Linked DNA regions of Homo sapiens. The protein of the gene in region 1 purifies or fractionates together with the protein of each later gene. This does not show direct contact. Each region holds a gene or a part of one and is shown in the gene's direction. Other genes may lie near its edges.

Region 1 (5,648 bases):
GAGAAGAATGGGTCAGCTGGGTGTGATCCAGAAGACCAGTGACATTTCGACAGTGCAATGGGGGCTGGACACAGTAGCTCATGCCTGTAATCCCAGCACATTAGGAGGCTGAGGTGGGAGGACCACTTGAGGCCAGGAAAGTTCGAGACCAGCTTGGCCTACATGGCAAAACCCCATCTCTACTAAAAACACAAAGAATTAGCCGGGCATGGTGCAACACGCCTGTAATCTCAGCTACTCAGGAGGCTGAGGCAGGAGAATCTCTTGAACCTGGGAGGCGGAGGTTGCAGCAGTGAGCCAAGATCACACCACCGCACTCAAGCCTGGGCAACAGAGATTCCGTCAAAAAAAAAAAAAAAAACAACCCATGAAACAACGCAATGGGCCAGATTTCACCTGTTATCATTGCTAATCAGGACACAGGTTTCAGCTACTCTGTGTCACCCACTTCCTGGAGTCAAGGCAGAAGATCAAGATGCACATGGCTCCTGGGCAGCAGCTCCCCACACACTAGCTACTTTCTTCTGTCTGTGATGGGTGAAGTCTCCTGTGAGGAGACACTCGGGACCACCCCAGTGTTGGGTCAGGCAGCATGACTCTCTTCACCTGCAGCTGTCTTGACCTGGCCAGTGCTGTGCTAGTGTGGACAGATGCAGTGATGCTCTTCCCAGGCCTGGCCCTGCTGTGATCTGGGAACATGGTATGGGACACAGTCAGAACAGTTCTTGTAGAATCAGTCTCCCTGACTTGGGACTGAACTTTCTATTCTGTTATCTGGCAACAATGCTAGGTTCTTGCCTATATTGCAGCACCATAGTCTTCTCAGCCAAACTCAAAGCTCTCACTTTTGCATACTTCACCTGTCCTGCACTATTTAATGTTCATTCTTACAGCAACAAAATATTATTATTTCCTCTTTCAGGTTAGTTATTGCCAGGAAATTGATTTAAAAGTAACCACCTAGTATCACCTAAGTGCTGGCAAAATAGCTCACTCTAGAACACCAAGAAGGATGGTCAGATGGAGACAAAAATGATCAAGGGGCTGAAGAATGGTCCAACCTCTATCTCACTGAGGCAGAAACATGTGATCTCCCAGAGAAGTGTTTAAAAATTTGGTCTAGAATGATATTCCAGTCTAATAAAACATGAGTGTGTGTGGTGGGGCTGCAGATGTAGGGCGGTGGGCCCTGTAGAAACCTTGGCTCTGGCTCAGCTGGAACCAGGGCTGACAAGGTTTAGAAATGCAAGCAGGGCTGGGCTGGGCATGACCAGGCTGGGGCCTCAGGACTTGGGTCTCTGTCTTTCCTGCCCTTTTCTCACAATACTCATTGTCCATCCCAGGTCAAAATGGTTGATAAAAATTGCCATTTATTTTTTTCATTTTTTCCCTTGGTTCACAGAGTACAACTGTTGAGGTATTATACAACAAAAGAACAAACTGATATCTTAGTTATTTTTCTGAACAACGGAGATCCTCTCTTCGACGGGGTGAAGGAGGGGAGAGTGAGAGTCGAGATGTCCCCAGGTCTTATCTCAGTTCGCTGTGGGAGGCGAAGGCACAGAATCATCCAAGGACACCAAGCACCTGAGGACAACCAGAACCTGTGGGTTCTGAAGGAGCAGCCTTCAAAGCTAGTGGCAGAGGGTAGCTCCCCTCCTGCCTGTGGCTTGTGCTGGCCTAGAGAGTATAGGGCAGAAGGATGGCAGATGAGTGACTCCACATCCAGAGCTGCCTCCCTTTAATCCAGGATCCTGTCCTTCCTGTCCTGTAGGAGTGCCTGTTGCCAGTGTGGGGTGAGACAAGTTTGTCCCACAGGGCTGTCTGAGCAGATAAGATTAAGGGCTGGGTCTGTGCTCAATTAACTCCTGTGGGCACGGGGGCTGGGAAGAGCAAAGTCAGCGGTGCCTACAGTCAGCACCATGCTGGGCCTGCCGTGGAAGGGAGGTCTGTCCTGGGCGCTGCTGCTGCTTCTCTTAGGCTCCCAGATCCTGCTGATCTATGCCTGGCATTTCCACGAGCAAAGGGACTGTGATGAACACAATGTCATGGCTCGTTACCTCCCTGCCACAGTGGAGTTTGCTGTCCACACATTCAACCAACAGAGCAAGGACTACTATGCCTACAGACTGGGGCACATCTTGAATTCCTGGAAGGAGCAGGTTGGTGACCACGTACCCTCCTGCCCTGGCATCTGGCATGTGCTGCTCAGTGAAAAATGGGAGTGGGGTGGGGACAGGGGGTCTTATTGAAGAGTCTTGTTCACCAGTTGTAGTCCATACTTAAGAAAATACAAGGTAGTTTAGTTAGTTTTTGATTTTGAAAACATCTAAGTTAGAAATTTCAAATAATTTGATCCTAATCAACTCTCATGAAAAACATATTGTTTAATCTCCATCTTTTTATGACATTATTTAACTGAAGAATGACTTCAAAATGAGGACTACCAAGAAAATGAAGATACGGAATAAGGAAAAGGGCTGAACAGAAAATGTGAATAGAGAGAAATTGAGAAATACTTCCAAAAAATGTAATAAAAAAGAGATAATTTAAAAAATGAAAATTAAAAAAGAGAACAGTAAGGGTTCAGGAGCAATAAGAAACCCCCACCAGTCCCAAAAGACCTCTGGGTGGTCAGTTCCTCTTTGCTGATTTCCAACTTCTCTGAGCTCCTTGGTGTGTCTGCACTTAATAAACTGAAGACTGTTTCACACTCTTCCTCAGACCACAGGTCTTAATCCTAAATGTTCTCCTTTTAATGAAGTCACTACAGAATGCAATCAGGAATGCACAGTTCATCTGTGCTGTAGGCATGAACAATGAAAATAGTCACCAAGTTGAGGACTTTTTTTTTTTTTTTTTTTTGAGATGGAATCTTGCTCTGTCACCCAGGCTAGAGTACAGTGGCGTCATCTCCGCTCACTGCAAGATCCGCCTCCCAGGTTCAAGTGATTCTCCTGCCTCAGCCTCCCAAATAACTGGGATTACAGGCACCCGCCAGATGCCTGGTTAATTTTTTGTATTTTTAGTAGAGACAGGGTTTCACTATGTTGGCCAGGCTGGTCTTGAACTCCTGACCTCATGATCTGCCCACCTCGGCCTCCCAAAGTGCTGGGATTACAGGCATGAGCCACTGCACCCAGCTAAGTTGAGGACTTCTAGTTGGGTAGAGAGGCAAAAATGCTCTTCCTACCTCATTACTGAAACCTTGCAAGAAGAGCAAAAGGACCCCAACCCTGCACCAAGCTTCAGCCTCTGGAAAGACCCTGTGCAAGGCCCTGGCTGGTTCTCTGACCCCTGCTCTCTGGGCTGGAGCCTGCCACGTGGGTTCCTGGATGTGACAATTCCAGAGTCAGTTTTGGAGTTGGGGAAATGGACGGATAGGGAGAAAGGAGATGGAATGAAGTGAAACTGAAAGGAGTGAGAAGATCAAGGTGCACTTTGCAATAGGGCAGATGGTGTTTCTTTCTTTCTTTCTTTCTTTTGATATGGAGTCTCACCCTGTCAACCAGGCTGGAGTGCAATGGCACAATCTCAGCTCCCTGCAACCTCTGCCTCCCGGGTTCAAACAATTCTCCTGCCTCAGCCTCCCTCCCGAGTAGCTGGGATTACAAGCACCTGCCACCATGCCCAGCTAACTTTTGTATTTTTAGTAGAGATGGGTTTTCACCATGTTGGCCAGGCTGGTCTCGAACTCCCGACCTCATTATTCACCCACCCCAGCCTCCAAAAGTGCTGGGATTACAGGTGTGAGCCACCACACCCGGCCCCAGATGGTGTTTCTTGAAGCCATTGTCCCAAGGATGTATGCCTGTGTGTAGTGGGAGTGCTGGGTGGCATTCTTGCATTTTTTTTTTCCTCAGGTCAGGTGGAAGGTTTGACAACATGCCCTAGATGAGGCTCCCTCTGTCCCAGGGCTGAGGTTACCCTGAAAGCTCTTGGAGAGCCAAACCCCTCCCCAGGCACATAGCGCCATCCTCTGGAAATGCAGCTGCAGGTTCAGACACTGACTGAGAGTGAAACTGGGGTCTCACCATGGGAGAGTGGGAAGTGCATCTGGAAATAGGGATACATTCATGGGTGTCTGCCCTGGGGCCACCATGCCCATCCGCTTTTTGTTCTTAACTGCCCAATCTAAAGAAGATCTCCTGATGCCAGGCCCATGGGCAAGCTCCCTAATGGAGGAGAATGTTGGGACTTCTCCTACACAAATGACATCTTCACCAGCAGCTACTTAGGGGCAACAAGGAGGGTGTGTTCACATTAATCTCTCTGTGTGCAATAGGTGGAGTCCAAGACTGTATTCTCAATGGAGCTACTGCTGGGGAGAACTAGGTGTGGGAAATTTGAAGACGACATTGACAACTGCCATTTCCAAGAAAGCACAGAGCTGAACAATGTAAGACAGGACACCAGCTTCCCTCCTGGATACAGCTGTGGATGCCACATGGGGTGTGGTGTGGGCACAGGTGCAACTGACAAAGAGACTTAGAGGAGTGAGCCTGCAGCAGCCTCTACCAGGCTGCCCTGCTTGTGCCTTAGTGGGGAGCGCAGAGGGGCAGGCAGCTAGGGGTCCACTTGCAGGCTCCTGGCCAATCTGAGTTTATCAACTCTGCCCTGTCATGCCACTGCAGCTGCCTGCACCCAGGGCACATGGCCTTCAGACTGCTCTTTCCCCCTGGGGTCCCAGTCTCCTGGGTCCAGTAAGAAGTGGTCCCCTCTCTGGTCTTCCTCCCCTGCCTTCTGGAAGAACCTGGGATCTGACATCACCTCTGTCTGTGGATGCAGTTCTCAGGGTTTCCTTACCCTCCCCTAGACCCAAAAGTGGTAGAGGCTGAGAAGGAGCCCCACTACCCTCCCTCCCAGGCCCTGAGCTGAGCTGCAGCACCTGCTCTAGGGGACAAGCTCCAAGTAAAGCCTGGCTCTGGGAAAACTCTTCCTATGCTTAATCAACACCCTTATTGTAATATTAAAAAATAGGTAGCTGATTGCTTAAATCTGGGAACTGCTTCCACTGGGACAATGCATTCTCCTGCTGCTCTTGGGTGCAGGGATCACACCAGGACAGCCCGGGGTTCCCCTGAGGGCCACTGCTAGGGAGTGGGGAACATTGCACAGGCGCCCCTGGGTCAGAAAAGAGTTGCAGTTCAGCTCAAATCTCCAGAACAGCCCAGGACTCAGGCTTGGGGGCAGCACATGATAGCCAGAGGCCCCGTCTTCCCACTGCTTGACCTGGGAAAGGGCAATGTGGAGAGGAAGCCATTGTTCAGAGCTTGAGCCATGAGCTTCCTGAGCCTCCCTCACCCACTGTCCCTTCCTGTGCTTGTTCTCTCAGACTTTCACCTGCTTCTTCACCATCAGCACCAGGCCCTGGATGACTCAGTTCAGCCTCCTGAACAAGACCTGCTTGGAGGGATTCCACTGAGTGAAACCCACTCACAGGCTTGTCCATGTGCTGCTCCCACATTCCGTGGACATCAGCACTACTCTCCTGAGGACTCTTCAGTGGCTGAGCAGCTTTGGACTTGTTTGTTATCCTATTTTGCATGTGTTTGAGATCTCAGATCAGTGTTTTAGAAAATCCACACATCTTGAGCCTAATCATGTAGTGTAGATCATTAAACATCAGCATTTTAAGAAACTTTGTG
Region 2 (4,040 bases), on another chromosome or scaffold:
CCAGCTAATTTTGTATTTTTAGTAGACACAGGGTTTCTCCATGTTGGTCAGGCTGGTCTCGAGCTCCCGACCTCAGGTGATCCGCCCGCCTCAGCCTCCCAAAGTGCTGGGATTACAGGCATGAGCCACTGTTCCTGGCCTTTCTTCTTTTTTTGTTTTTGTTTTTTTTTGAGATGCAATTTTAAATAGGGTGGCTTGGACAGCCACCTGAGTTGGGTTTAAAAGCTGCCAGCTCCAGCCGTCCAGCTGTGGGGCCACGGTGCCAGACAGTGGTGGTGGTTATAGGACCGTAGGTGTTTACCAAAACTAGACAAGTCCACATAACAACCAACTGCACAAATAAGGAGTAAAATAATAAAGAGAAGGACGTGTGAGGCAGGACTGGATTGTAGCCCAGGATAAAGAGAAGTTGCGGGATGACAGCTGTGCCGTCGGCCCAGACAGAACCATCTGGACAGAGGACAGAGGATAAGGGAGATGGTTGAAAATACTACCATCATATGATAATGACAACTAAGCCACAGGAAAACAAGGCAGTTTTAACCTCAGGGGAAATCCCTCAGAAATGGATGGAATCTACCAGAAGCATCATGAGAGGAAGAGGAAGGGAAACAGAGCTAAATTGGGGCCAGGTGTGGTGGCTCGCACTTGTCATCCCAGCACTTTTGGAGGCCCAGGCGGGAAGATCACTGGAGCCCAGGAGTTCAGGACCAGCCTGGGCAACAAAGCGAGATCCCCTCTCTACAAAAAATAAAAAACTAGCCAGGCATGGTGGTGCATGCCTGTGGTCCCAGTTACTCAGGAGGCTGAGGTGCTGGGGAACAAGGCTGCAGTGAGCTGTGATTGTGCCAGCCTAGGTGACAGAGCCAGACCCTGTATCAAAAAAAATAATAATAATTAAAAAACAAAAGATCGGCTGGGCGCGGTGGCTCATGCCTGTAATCCCAGCACTTTGGGAGGCTGAGGTGGGTGGACCACCTGAGGTCGGGAGTTCGAGACCAGCCTCACCAACATGGAGAAACCCTGTGTCTACTAAAAATACAAAATTAGCTGGGCGTGGTGGTGCATGCCTGTAATTCTAGCTACTTGGGAGGCTGAGGCAGGAGAATTCACTTGAACCCGGGAAGTGGAGGTTGCGGTGAGCCAAGATCGCACCATTGCACTCCAGCCTGGGCAACAAGAGTGAAACACTGTCTCAAAAAAAAAAAAAAAAAGTGAAAGATCTAAATTGTCAACTATTCGTCAATAATTAATGTCTAAAAAATATTAAGAAAGGAAGAAAGGAATGAGAGCAAAAGAGAGGGAGAGAGGAAAGTGTCATCTTCATAAGCTGAAGGCCAGTGCCACCGTCACCACTGGCAGAGCTCCCCAGATTCTACAAAGGGAAACTGTTCCTCCATATGGAGTAATAGGGACTGGATATGTCATGCCAAATGAAAGAACACGCCAAACCAGACAAAATATATGGAATGCAGAGTATTAAAAAACTGGCTGTGGGCCAGTGAGGGACAGCGACGTGTGGGAGCTGGGAAACAAGGTAAGCCATGCGACTGGCCCAGTGTCCTGTGTGGAGTTTCCTGGTGGAGCCTGGCAGACACCCGGACTTTAGGAGTTGAAACTGATTCAGAGCGTCCCAGCAGCTGGAGTTTGCAGGGCGGAGAACCAGAGAGAAGAGAGCTGCACAGGGAAAGAACCCTGGATATCCACAGAGGCTCCCGTTCCAGTGTGCAGCGGACTACGACTACTGGTGAGCACAGGCGTGTGAGGAAGCTACCCAAGACCAGGGAAGGCCATCACCCCAGCAGGAGAGGATGAACGGTAACTCCAGTGTGCAAGCAGGACAGGGACTAGCAGCTGTCCCCACCCACCAGGATAGAGAAGCTCATGTTCACCTAGGCAGCACTGGCCAGGGTGCCCAGAATGGTGTTTGTTGCCTCCATAGAGGGAAACAAGCCTACAGTTAAGAGCTGCTCTGGTCCCACACAGCACATCTTCAAAGCAAGACTCAAAAGGATCAAACCATTTCCTTGTTTTCTGAGAATAAAAGCAGTTGTACCTCTTCCTTTTCACTCTCAGAAAATCTGATAGAATCTATAAAAGAGCCCTAAGGCTGGAGACACTGTATTTTCCAGGGAGCCAACTCCTTGCCCCAGACACTAGTCAATTGCCCCAGCACTTTCTTCACTGATCGTTAGAGGAAAAAAGCTCATGTTAGATTTAAAAATCAGGAAAAAAATTTAACACTAAACTTGCAAATATTATGTGGTGTATATTACAGTTACACATTTACTATGTAAGTGCAACTGTAAAACTGAGGAAGTATTCCAAAATGTTGACAGTAGTTAATCCTGAATGACAGAACCCAATTGATTTTCATTTTCTTCCATTTCCTAAATTGTCTTCAATTTCCTTGTACTCCTTGAATATCTGAATTCTAGAACCCCCCCCCCAGCAACCCAAGCACAACAAGAATATTGGGAGGTGCCCCAGCTGCAAATAAACTCAGACTTGGAATAGTAGCGCAGTTTTATTTTCTGTAGTAACAAACATTTAAGAACCAGATAAAACATGAGGCCCTCCCAGGAAAGTAGCAACTGTGGGAATTCCTGCCCTAGGGAAGGATGGACGCACTGCCTACAAGGAGACGCAAAGTGGGACCTCGCTCCATTTGCCCAGGCCAGGCTTAGCGGGAAACGGGGGGCCCAAAGCGCTGCATGGTCCGCACCACCAGGGAAAGCTGGTCAAGAAAGTTGATGACGGAAATTCGGAGCAGGCGACAGTCTTCAGCTTTCCAGCGGCTAAAAGTGAGGGGAAAAGAAAATCAAATTGGAGGTGGCAACTCCTGGTCCCTCGCTCTGCCCCTCAGGCACCCAATATAGCAAACCCTTGGGAGCCCTGCCATTACACAGCCCCTCAGGCAGAGACCGGCCCAGCGCACCTGGCGCTCCTTAGGGCTCATCCTTGGATGTCCCCCATGTCTCCATGGGCCGCCTCCCCCAACCCCGTCCCTTTCAGAACTTACACGACCAGGATCCTGCCACTCACTGTGAGATCCTTCCCAACCACCCTTTGGTGGGGCTCGGCATCTGGTGCCAGGGACCCATGGGCGATTTCCGCCTCCAAGGGGGTCGGGAAAGGCACGCTGAGGGTGCTGGGGGTCATTCGGTTAAGGTGCCATCTGATACGATCTTGCCTATGTCTCAGGCCTTCTTGCTCCTCTGAAGCCCCCTCTCAGGTCACCCTGCCTAGTGTCACCCCCTTCACTCCTTACCTCGCCCAGGCCACCGTTAGCAGAGCTTCTCCCTCCATTTCAATGTCTTCCCCTCCTCCGACCACCTCTGACCGTATACGCCAGCCCCGGTCCCCCCCTGCTACCCTTTCCGTCGGCCCCCCGCCCGCCCTCCTTTCCTTCTCCCCGAGTCCAGCCCTCGCTCCGCCGCAAGCAGCCCCCAGCTCGGAAAGGATACAATATGTGCGGCCGCATTCGTGACCCCCTGGCCGCAGACGCGGCGTCTCTGCCCGGACCTGGCGCGTGCGCTGGGGGAGCTCCACCGGCCGGAGCTGCGGCTGTGTCCACGCCCCCGCGGCAGCTGTGGCCACCCCGGCCATCCCCGCCGTCAGCGCCTCCGCCTGCGTCTGCATCCGCGTCCCGCATGACCGCCGCCGCGCCGCTCCGACTCCACCCCCGAAGCGCAGGTCCTACGCCCCGCCCTCTCTGTGGCTCCTTCCCGAAGCCCCGCCCCCTGCGCACGACTCCGCCCACACGCGCCTGCGCAGGTCCCTGGAGAGCCTGACTGGCGCGTGGTCAGTTCCCGCCAAGCGGCCCTGCCGGGGGCCTTCTGAGACCCGGTCAGCGGTTGAGAGGCTGCGGTTTCCTCCAGAAACTCTGCCCTTTCGCGCGTAACTCGATTCCAGAGCGCTGGTGCAAACTGACCCACAGTCGGTCCGGCCCCAGGAAGCCAACCCTGACGGGGCTTTTGAAGACACCGTGGTCGCCTATCCCAGAGGCGCACCCCGCGAGGCTCCGCCCCTAAGCGCGC
Region 3 (3,956 bases), on another chromosome or scaffold:
CCTGAGAAGGCATAGATACCCGGCCCACCCTGCCCTGGAATTACAAAAGTCTTAGACTGTGCCTGAGTGCCCGGCCTCCTTGGGAGACCCTCCTAGGCAGCCTAAGCACCAGACCCGGGAGCTGGGTGCTCTGGTCCTGCCTGCCTGCCTCTCACTGGACCCTCTCCTTCCAGGTACGGCTTCAGGTCCAGAGCGTGGAGAAGCCTCAGTACCGCGGGACGTTGCACTGCTTCAAGTCCATCATCAAGCAAGAGAGCGTGAGTGGCCTGGGCTGGTGGGGCTCGGGAGGCACAGGATGGGGAACTAGCTTCCGGGCTGCCACCACCCCAGACCAGAGAGCCAGGAAGGAAGGTGTCAGGACGACCAGGAGGCCAGTCAGGACCTAGGTTCTAACGAAATTCTGCTTGGTCCTCAGGAGCCCCTGGGGTGGGCTGGGGCTGCCATCCCCCGACCCCCTTCCGCGTGGAGGGCCCGGGAGGTGCGCGTTGCCGGCTCTGATGGCGTCTCTGTCCCCGCAGGTGCTGGGCCTGTACAAGGGCCTGGGCTCGCCGCTCATGGGGCTCACCTTCATCAACGCGCTGGTGTTCGGGGTGCAGGGCAACACCCTCCGGGCCCTGGGCCACGACTCGCCCCTCAACCAGTTCCTGGCAGGTGCGGCGGCGGGCGCCATCCAGTGCGTCATCTGCTGCCCCATGGAGCTGGCCAAGACGCGGCTGCAGCTGCAGGACGCGGGCCCAGCGCGCACCTACAAGGGCTCGCTGGACTGCCTCGCGCAGATCTACGGGCACGAGGGTCTGCGTGGCGTCAACCGGGGCATGGTGTCCACGTTGCTGCGTGAGACGCCCAGCTTCGGCGTCTACTTCCTCACCTATGACGCTCTCACGCGGGCGCTGGGCTGCGAGCCGGGCGACCGCCTGCTGGTGCCCAAGCTGCTGTTGGCGGGCGGTACGTCAGGCATCGTGTCCTGGCTCTCTACCTATCCTGTGGACGTGGTCAAGTCGCGGCTGCAGGCGGACGGACTGCGGGGCGCCCCGCGCTACCGCGGCATCCTGGACTGCGTGCACCAGAGCTACCGCGCCGAGGGCTGGCGCGTCTTCACACGGGGGCTGGCGTCCACGCTGCTGCGCGCCTTCCCCGTCAACGCTGCCACCTTCGCCACCGTCACGGTGGTGCTCACCTACGCGCGCGGCGAGGAGGCCGGGCCCGAGGGCGAGGCTGTGCCCGCCGCCCCTGCGGGGCCTGCCCTGGCGCAGCCCTCCAGCCTGTGACGCTCACCCCGCCCTCCTTCCCCAGGGCTCCTTCTCAGAAACCTGGGACATAAATTGGCCCCTGAGTCGATTGCCCTGCTTCCTGCTGGGATGCTGCGAGCTGTGGAGTCTATCAGACGTGGGCTGAATTTTGCTGATCAGCTGGGTAGTTTTGGCCGAGAACTGCACTTGCCTCAGTGTTCTCATCTATGAAATAAGGACCCTCATGCCCACACTGTAGAGTCACGAAGCTCAGAGATTATTCCCAGCAGCAGCCAGCACCTGGCCTGGCTGAGGCCATTGCACCGTTATCCTGGAAACTGAGGCAGACACTCCAGCCCCTTTCTGGGATCCTGGCCACGTCATTGTGCTCCTGCCCTGCAGGCTGGCTCCCGGGGGTCTCTGATGGCCAACCAAGGGGCCACCCAGGGACCTCTAACTCCACACATCCTCCACCCGGGGGGGTGGTGGGCCACCCCTCTGGTCTGTGTTAGGGACAGAGGAAAACTTGGTGTGCCTCCTGGTGTCACAGAACTGGATCCTCTGCATACCCCAGCTTCTCCACATGCCACTGCTAGGGGTACCCCAGCTGCTGCCACTCCTGCTGGAGGGTGAACTGGGGACCCTGCACCCTCCGGGAAGCCATGGAGTCTGCTGGAGGCACCATATCAGCCTGCGGGACTAGGGTGGGGAGCAAACAGGCCAGCGGTGGAGGTCTGGACAGTTCAAGTGTGATGCAGCTGTGGCAAGGAGAAATCCTTCCGCCTCTGGGCCTCAGGCTGCCTGTCCATAAAATGGGGACATGGCCAGCTGACGGACAACTGAGTCTCCGGCCCACCTACCACCGCCAGCCAGGATCCCCCAAAGTGTGCAGAGGGCTCAGCAGAGAACAGTATGGGACCCCCTCACCAGGCCTGGAACACCTCCAGCCACAAAGAAGCCAAAGGTCAGTCCCTCTGCTCCCCAGCAAACGGTGCCTCCCAGGCATTCTCAGTGCCAGGGCTTCATCCCTGTGAAGGCACAGGGCCTGCTAGTGGGCACAGGGGTGGCTAGTTGGGGCCTGGGGCAGAGGAGGGCTGCACCAGGCGTCCTGGGGAATGTGCTCAGTGAAGACGACACTGGGCTTTGCACAGCCTGGTGTCGCTGTACAGAAACTGTCAAGGGAATAAAGTGTTCTTTGTTTTTTAAGTGGCGAGGCTGCCTTTGCATATGGTGGAGGAAAGGGCTTCATTCAGCACCCTTGCCCTGGAGTCGAAGGGGCCAGCTCAGGGGTGCGTGTGCCCTTGGACCCTGACAGCAGCCTTGGCCATGTGACCTGGGCAGTTGCGGATACATCTGAGAGCCTGTTTTCTCATCTGCAAGGCAAGCTAATGAAGGGCGTGAACACGCTGGTGCAGCCTGGCCATTCAGCAGATGCCCCTCTGCTATCATCATCCCAGCAATGAGAGAGAGAGGCCTGTGGTGAGGGGCACTGGCGGGCGGGGCAGCAGGGGCAGGGTGTGTCCCAAAAACAGCTTCCTGGAAGAGGGGAGGTCTGAGTGGAGCTGACCATTTCAGCCACCCGGGCAACTTGGGCACAACTGTACTTAACCCAAACTAGGAGGTCAGAGAGGGCTTCCTGGAAGAGGGCATCCTGGAGCTTTGCCAAAGGTGTGGTGTGGGGGTCTCACTGCCCACCTCACCTGCAGTTCTGTTCAGCCTCCTGGAGTCAGCCCTTGGCATCCTGAGCCTCTGCAGCCACCAGCCCTGGAGGCTTTCCCTCCCAAGTGCTGAGCCAAGAAGCTCTGCCCACTGACAAGGGGGAGTCGGGGAGGGGCCCCAGTTCCTGTGCCTGTTTAACCCTAGTGCTAGCCTGGGAAGTTGGGCTTTACAGGGAGGCAGGAGGCGGGGAGGAAGCTGGCTGTTGACCCCTGGGGTCTCCTGGCCTCTCTCGCTTCTCTTTACTCTGAAATAAACCAGGGGAAGCTCCCAGGGATGGGGGAAACACCCTGGCCATGGGCACAGAGAGGGGCCCCTTCCCTAGCTCCTCCATGTCCAGCTTTGGCAGCCCCTTTGCCTCTCTAGGCCTGGGTGGCTGAATCTCTCAGGGCAGCTTGAGTGTGGCCTGTGGCTGTGGTCCCCATCACCCTGGATCTCTCCACACATCTGCACTCTCTAGAAAGGCCCCAACGTGACCCTTGTCAGGAACTAATTTGAGCCCTGCTCACCCTGGGGCTTCTCCACGAACCCTGCGGCTGCCTGCCCTCTGGGGACAGCACACAGACAGGCCAGCCCTTCAGAAGTGAGGAGTGGTGCGGCAAGGAGCAAGGTGAAGGGGCGGGGGGCTTCTAGCTCCCTCCCACTTCCCAGTTCAGCGGCCTCACATGACCAACACATCTGCCAGGCAGGGAGTAGAGTTGTTGTTTTTAATGAATTTATTTTACATTTTCTTTTCTCCCTGATTTGAACTTTTTTTTTTTTTTTTTTTTGAGTCTTGCTCTGTTGCCCAGGCTGGAGTGCAGTGGTGCTCTTTCAGCTCACTGCAACCTCTACCTCCCGGGTTCAAGTGATTCTTCTGCCTCAGCCTCCAAGTAACTGGGATTACAGGCGTGCACCACCACACCTGGCAAATGTTTCTATTTTTATTAGAGACAGGGTTTCACCATCTTGACCAGGCTGGTCTCAAACTCCTGACCTCAAGTGATCCACCCGCCTCAGCCTCCCAAAGTG
Region 4 (4,541 bases), on another chromosome or scaffold:
ATGAAGTAATGTAATAGATTTAGTGTTGTTATTTTAAAGTGAATATTTTTAAATTTCTCATTGTTAGTTTCTTTCTTTCTTTTTCTTCTTTTTTTTTTTTCGAGATGGAGTCTCGCTCTGTTGCCCAGGCTGGAGTGCCGTGGTGCCATCTCAGCTCACTGCAAGCTCCGCCTCCCAGGTTCACGCCACTCTCCTGCCTCAGCCTCCCGAGTAGCTGGGACTACAGGCGCCCGCCACCATGCCCGGCTAATTTTTTGTATTTTTAGTAGATACCAGGTCTCACCATGTTAGCCAGGATGGTCTCGATCTCCTGACCTCGTGATCCGCCTGCCCCAGCCTTCCAAAGTGCTGGGATTACAGGCGTGAGCCACCGCACCCAACCACGCCCGGCTAATTTTTTGTATTTTTAGTAGAGACGGGGTTTTACCATGTTAGCCAGGATGGTCTCGATCTCCTGACCTCATGATCCACCCGCCTCGGCCTCCCAAAGTGCGGCGATTACAGGCGTGAGCCACCACGCCTGGTCCTCAGTGTTATTTTCTAATCTGGTAAATGTTGACAGATTTAACTCAAAAACAAAGGCTCTTGGGGATGTGCAATAATTTGAGGGACTTGCAATAATTTTCAAGAGTGTAAAGGAGTCCTGAGACCAAAGGGTTTGAGAACCGGTGGTCCCACTTACAGGGGCCTTGTCTTGAGACACAGCAGGAAAGAGGGGTGTTAACTGGTGGTGTCAGCTCTGTCTCCAGTGGGTGATTTTTGCCTCTCTGAGCCTCAGTTGTCTTACCTGCAAAACGGAGTGAGAAATGGTACTTCCTACCTTGTTGGTGCTCAAGAAAGTGTTCACACAACACGAATCCCCATCCTAACAGAATCCTGGCCAGGAGCCCAAGTTATTTCCTGTAATCTACGTTTGAAACGAATGCGAGGAAGCAAAGTGTGCTAAGTGATGCGGTTTCAAAAGCTCCTCTTAAACCCCAGCATTTGTCTTCATGAATATTGCTTTAAAGTCGGCCTGACTGGTTTTCTCCCTCTGCTCCGTGCATGGCCCAGAGCTGATCAAGGAAGTGCTGTCTCTGGAGGAGAAGATCCACGACTTGGCCCTGGAGCTCTACACGCAGAGATCGCTGCTGGTGATGGGGCGGGGCTACAACTATGCCACCTGCCTGGAAGGAGCCCTGGTGAGCCCCCACCCCCAGCCCCCACCCCCACGGAGGACAGGCACAGGAGACCCTGAGGAGCCAGCGGGAAGGAGGGCAGGGCGTTGGGCTTGGGGAGGGCCGGGCCTAAGGACCCCTTGGCCAGTCCTGTGAGCCTGCGCTGAGCACCAGCTCTCCACCAGGTTTCTAGCCCTGGGCACACAGAGATGGGTGAGGCAGGTGCCTGCCCCCAGGGATCTCCCAATCTACTGAGGAGAAAGGGACAGGGCGCCTGGGGTGTGCCCCTCCGGCTGTCCAGGCACTGCCAGGGTCCACTTGGAACAGCTCACTCAGACCTCATGAGCTGCTTCTGAGAGGTTGGCGGTTGCTATTCACCCTCATTCAGGAGGAAACAAAGCCTCTGAAAGCTTAAGTATCTCACTCAAGATGACGTAGGGGACCCGAATCAGACCTGAGTCCATGGGGCCTTCGCTTTTTTCCACCAAAATTGAGGGGTGGGTTCTCCGCAGAGTTTCCTTGTTACCCCTCAAACTTCCAAGGGGAGTTTGAGATCCTGCAGGAATTAACTTCGAAGGCCTTGCTTTTTCAAAAATTGGTGACAGGCCATTTGCCCCCTGCAGCATTAAAGATCCACGCCAGGAAAGAGAAAGCTGATGGGGCAGGGACAGGGTGCCAGGGCCACAGGGCTGCCCAGAGGGTGGGCAGAGAGCCGTGCAGGGTCCTGCATCTCGGACTTGCCCTTTCCTCGCTGTCAGCATGCCATGCACGGAGCAGATGCTCAGCCCAGGTGACGGGGACAGTGCTCCAGCTGAGGCTGCACTGGCCACCAAGACGAGGGCATTAACCGTGGCCCAGCTGGGCTGCCATCCTCTCCCATCTCCTCCCCACCACCCCCATTTGAAAGACAATGCTAGGCTGGCACAGTGGTCCACGCCTGTAATCCCAGCACTTTGGGAGGCCAAGGCAGTCAGATCATTTGAGGTCAGGAGTTCGAGACCAGCCTGGACAACATGGTAAAAGCCCATCTCTACCAAAAATTCAAAAACTAGCTGGGCGTGGTGGTGCACGCCTGTAATCCCAGCTACATGGGAGGCTGAGGCAGGAGAATCGCTTGAATCCAAGAGGAGGAGGTTGCAGTGAGCCAAGATCATGCCACTGCACTCCAGCCTGGGAGACAGAACGAGACTCCCATCTCAACGAAAAAAAAAAAAAAGAAAGAAAGAAAAAAAAAAGAAAGACAATGCCAGTTACAAGTGGTTACCGGAAACATTCAGAGTTGATTTCCTTGGTCTTGGTGGGGAGTGCAGGGCTGTCCTCACTGAGCTCCATCTCCTGCACCTGCCCCCTGGAGATTCTGACTCCTGTTAAAGAACAGGCAGGTGCTGCTTCTTGGAGTGCAGTAGAGGCAAGGCCTGGGGTGCACTGTCAGTCCCCAGATGACTCTGCGTCATGGGTGGGGGCTGAGCTGCGGTGGCTGAACGTGCTGGCGGGAGATGCACATTGCAGCTATGCCTCCGCATGAGTCTGCTGAAGGAAGAAGCGTTTAGGTGGCTGCTGGCACGAGCCCATGGTCCTCTGGTCACTGGGAGGCCGGCACTGCAGCTGTCTGCGCCTCCAGACTGGAGCCGCACTCCTTACAGTGTGGCCCTGACCTAAATCAGCAGTGCTAGCGGGGAGTCGAGAGATGATTTATTTGACTGTCTCACCATTTCAATGACGTGGATTTGTGGTAACTGAATAGAGATGGATCTACCTGAACACAGGAAAAAAATTAATTCAAATAACACCCCAGTTTGTGTGATTTTGCTTGGAACCACTCTTTAGAAGTTATTAATGGGCAAATGCTTAATCAGATAATTAACTGAAGGTGTAGCTAAGCTGAATACGATGCTGTCGTTATACACGTGGCTGGCTAGGGAGGAGCAGGGGGTGAGCTAGGCTGACTCCGACTTGTTTGTCCTAAGGGGTGGCTGTGCGTGGGACTGGAGAGAGACAACAGCAGTGCCCGGGGCTGGTGTGGGGACACAGAGGTTGTGTCCCGGGCTGGTGCATGCTCTGGATGGTAGCCAGGCCTCTCCCCAGGCCCTTGCTGGGTGTCCTCAGTGCTGTCAAGCACTCCAGGCATCTGTCTGCCTTGCAACCCTTGGCTCTCTGCCTTCCAGAGTCATCCTTCCCCTGGTTCCCCTTCTTCCCCTCTGGCTGATCTGCTCCAGCCCCATCTGCCCAGTGTGACTCTGATCTCACCTCCTGTTTCCAGAAAATTAAAGAGATAACCTACATGCACTCAGAAGGCATCCTGGCTGGGGAGCTGAAGCACGGGCCCCTGGCACTGATTGACAAGCAGATGCCCGTCATCATGGTCATTATGAAGGATCCTTGCTTCGCCAAATGCCAGAACGCCCTGCAGCAAGTCACGGCCCGCCAGGTGAGGGCTCTCCACTGGACTGGGCCAGCTCTCTCCTGCTTTTCCCCATGCATGCCCACCTCACCACTGTCTGCCAGTACCAGTGATGGATGGTCTGGCCAGTGAGTGGCTGTGACCACACACCCTCCCCCGGGCCGCCTGTGGGGAGTGCACACACTTGGAAAGGAGCTGGTCAGCCCGCAGCTGTCCCACACAGCTCTTTGGTGGGGCCCAGGGACCCACACTGCTGTGAGCAGCACCAGATCCTAGCCTGGAGCTCAGGGGAGGTACTCCTGGTGGACATCCCTGGGGCAGGGTTTCCCCAGGTTCTGCGGCCAAGCAGCTCCGATGGGAACTACCTGGAGTTAGGTCAGGTCTCATAGGGCAGGGGCACAGCTTTCCATAAGACTGCCCTCGATTCAGGCACCTGTTGCAAGCCAGGGGTCCACCCACACATCTGAGCAACTGACTATGAATCCAAGGATTCCCACTCTCCCCTGAAGTTCAGTAATTTTCTAGAACGACCCATAGAACTCAGGAGATGACTATATGATTACAGTTTTATTATAAAAGATATAAATCACAGCCAACCCAAAAGAAGAGACCCCTAGTTTGAGGGCCCCAGATGTGAAGCTTGTGTCCTCAGGATGTGTCACCCTCCCAGCACGTCACTGTGTGTCGCCCGGGAGCTCCCCTGAGCTGCTAGCTCCAGTGTCCAGAGTTTGTATTGTGGTTTTATTAAGTAGGCAGGATGGAGTGAACCATTGGCCATGTGATCAAACTCAGTCGCCAGCCCCACTTTTGTCCTTGGAGGTTGGGAGGTCAGACTGACAGGCTCATGTCTCAAAGCCCCAACCTTCTAATCATGTGGCTGGCCTTTCTAGCAGGGCCAGACGCCATCCTGGAACTATCTACAGGCCCACCACGAGTCGTCACCTTAGCATAAAGTTAGGTATAGTCCAAGGGACCTCCCATAA

The links. The genes of interacting proteins can lie anywhere in the genome.
Region 2: the proteins of CST9L (region 1) and PLXNA3 purify together in Homo sapiens (affinity purification with mass spectrometry; one large-scale study listed by BioGRID and IntAct). This does not show direct contact.
Region 3: the proteins of CST9L (region 1) and SLC25A29 purify together in Homo sapiens (affinity purification with mass spectrometry; one large-scale study listed by BioGRID and IntAct). This does not show direct contact.
Region 4: the proteins of CST9L (region 1) and GFPT2 purify together in Homo sapiens (affinity purification with mass spectrometry; one large-scale study listed by BioGRID and IntAct). This does not show direct contact.

What each region holds. Positions count from the first base shown.
Region 1 is NC_000020.11:23,564,725-23,570,372, reverse strand, and holds CST9L (cystatin-9-like precursor), read left to right. Parts: upstream 1-1,888; 5' UTR 1,889-1,922; coding exon 1,923-2,162; intron 2,163-4,285; coding exon 4,286-4,399; intron 4,400-5,335; coding exon 5,336-5,425; 3' UTR 5,426-5,641; downstream 5,642-5,648.
Region 2 is NC_000023.11:154,475,261-154,479,300, forward strand, and holds the end of PLXNA3 (plexin-A3 precursor), read left to right. Parts: 3' UTR 1-2,519; downstream 2,520-4,040. Other genes in the region: EKC/KEOPS complex subunit LAGE3, read right to left, coding at 2,684-2,798, 3,023-3,151, 3,468-3,655. UniProt on the Homo sapiens protein: Coreceptor for SEMA3A and SEMA3F. Necessary for signaling by class 3 semaphorins and subsequent remodeling of the cytoskeleton. Plays a role in axon guidance in the developing nervous system.
Region 3 is NC_000014.9:100,289,595-100,293,550, reverse strand, and holds the end of SLC25A29 (mitochondrial basic amino acids transporter), read left to right. Parts: intron 1-173; coding exon 174-257; intron 258-518; coding exon 519-1,268; 3' UTR 1,269-2,435; downstream 2,436-3,956. UniProt on the Homo sapiens protein: Mitochondrial transporter of arginine, lysine, homoarginine, methylarginine and, to a much lesser extent, ornithine and histidine. Does not transport carnitine nor acylcarnitines. Functions by both counter-exchange and uniport mechanisms.
Region 4 is NC_000005.10:180,303,816-180,308,356, reverse strand, and holds part of GFPT2 (glutamine--fructose-6-phosphate aminotransferase [isomerizing] 2), read left to right. Parts: intron 1-1,053; coding exon 1,054-1,181; intron 1,182-3,417; coding exon 3,418-3,585; intron 3,586-4,541. UniProt on the Homo sapiens protein: Controls the flux of glucose into the hexosamine pathway. Most likely involved in regulating the availability of precursors for N- and O-linked glycosylation of proteins.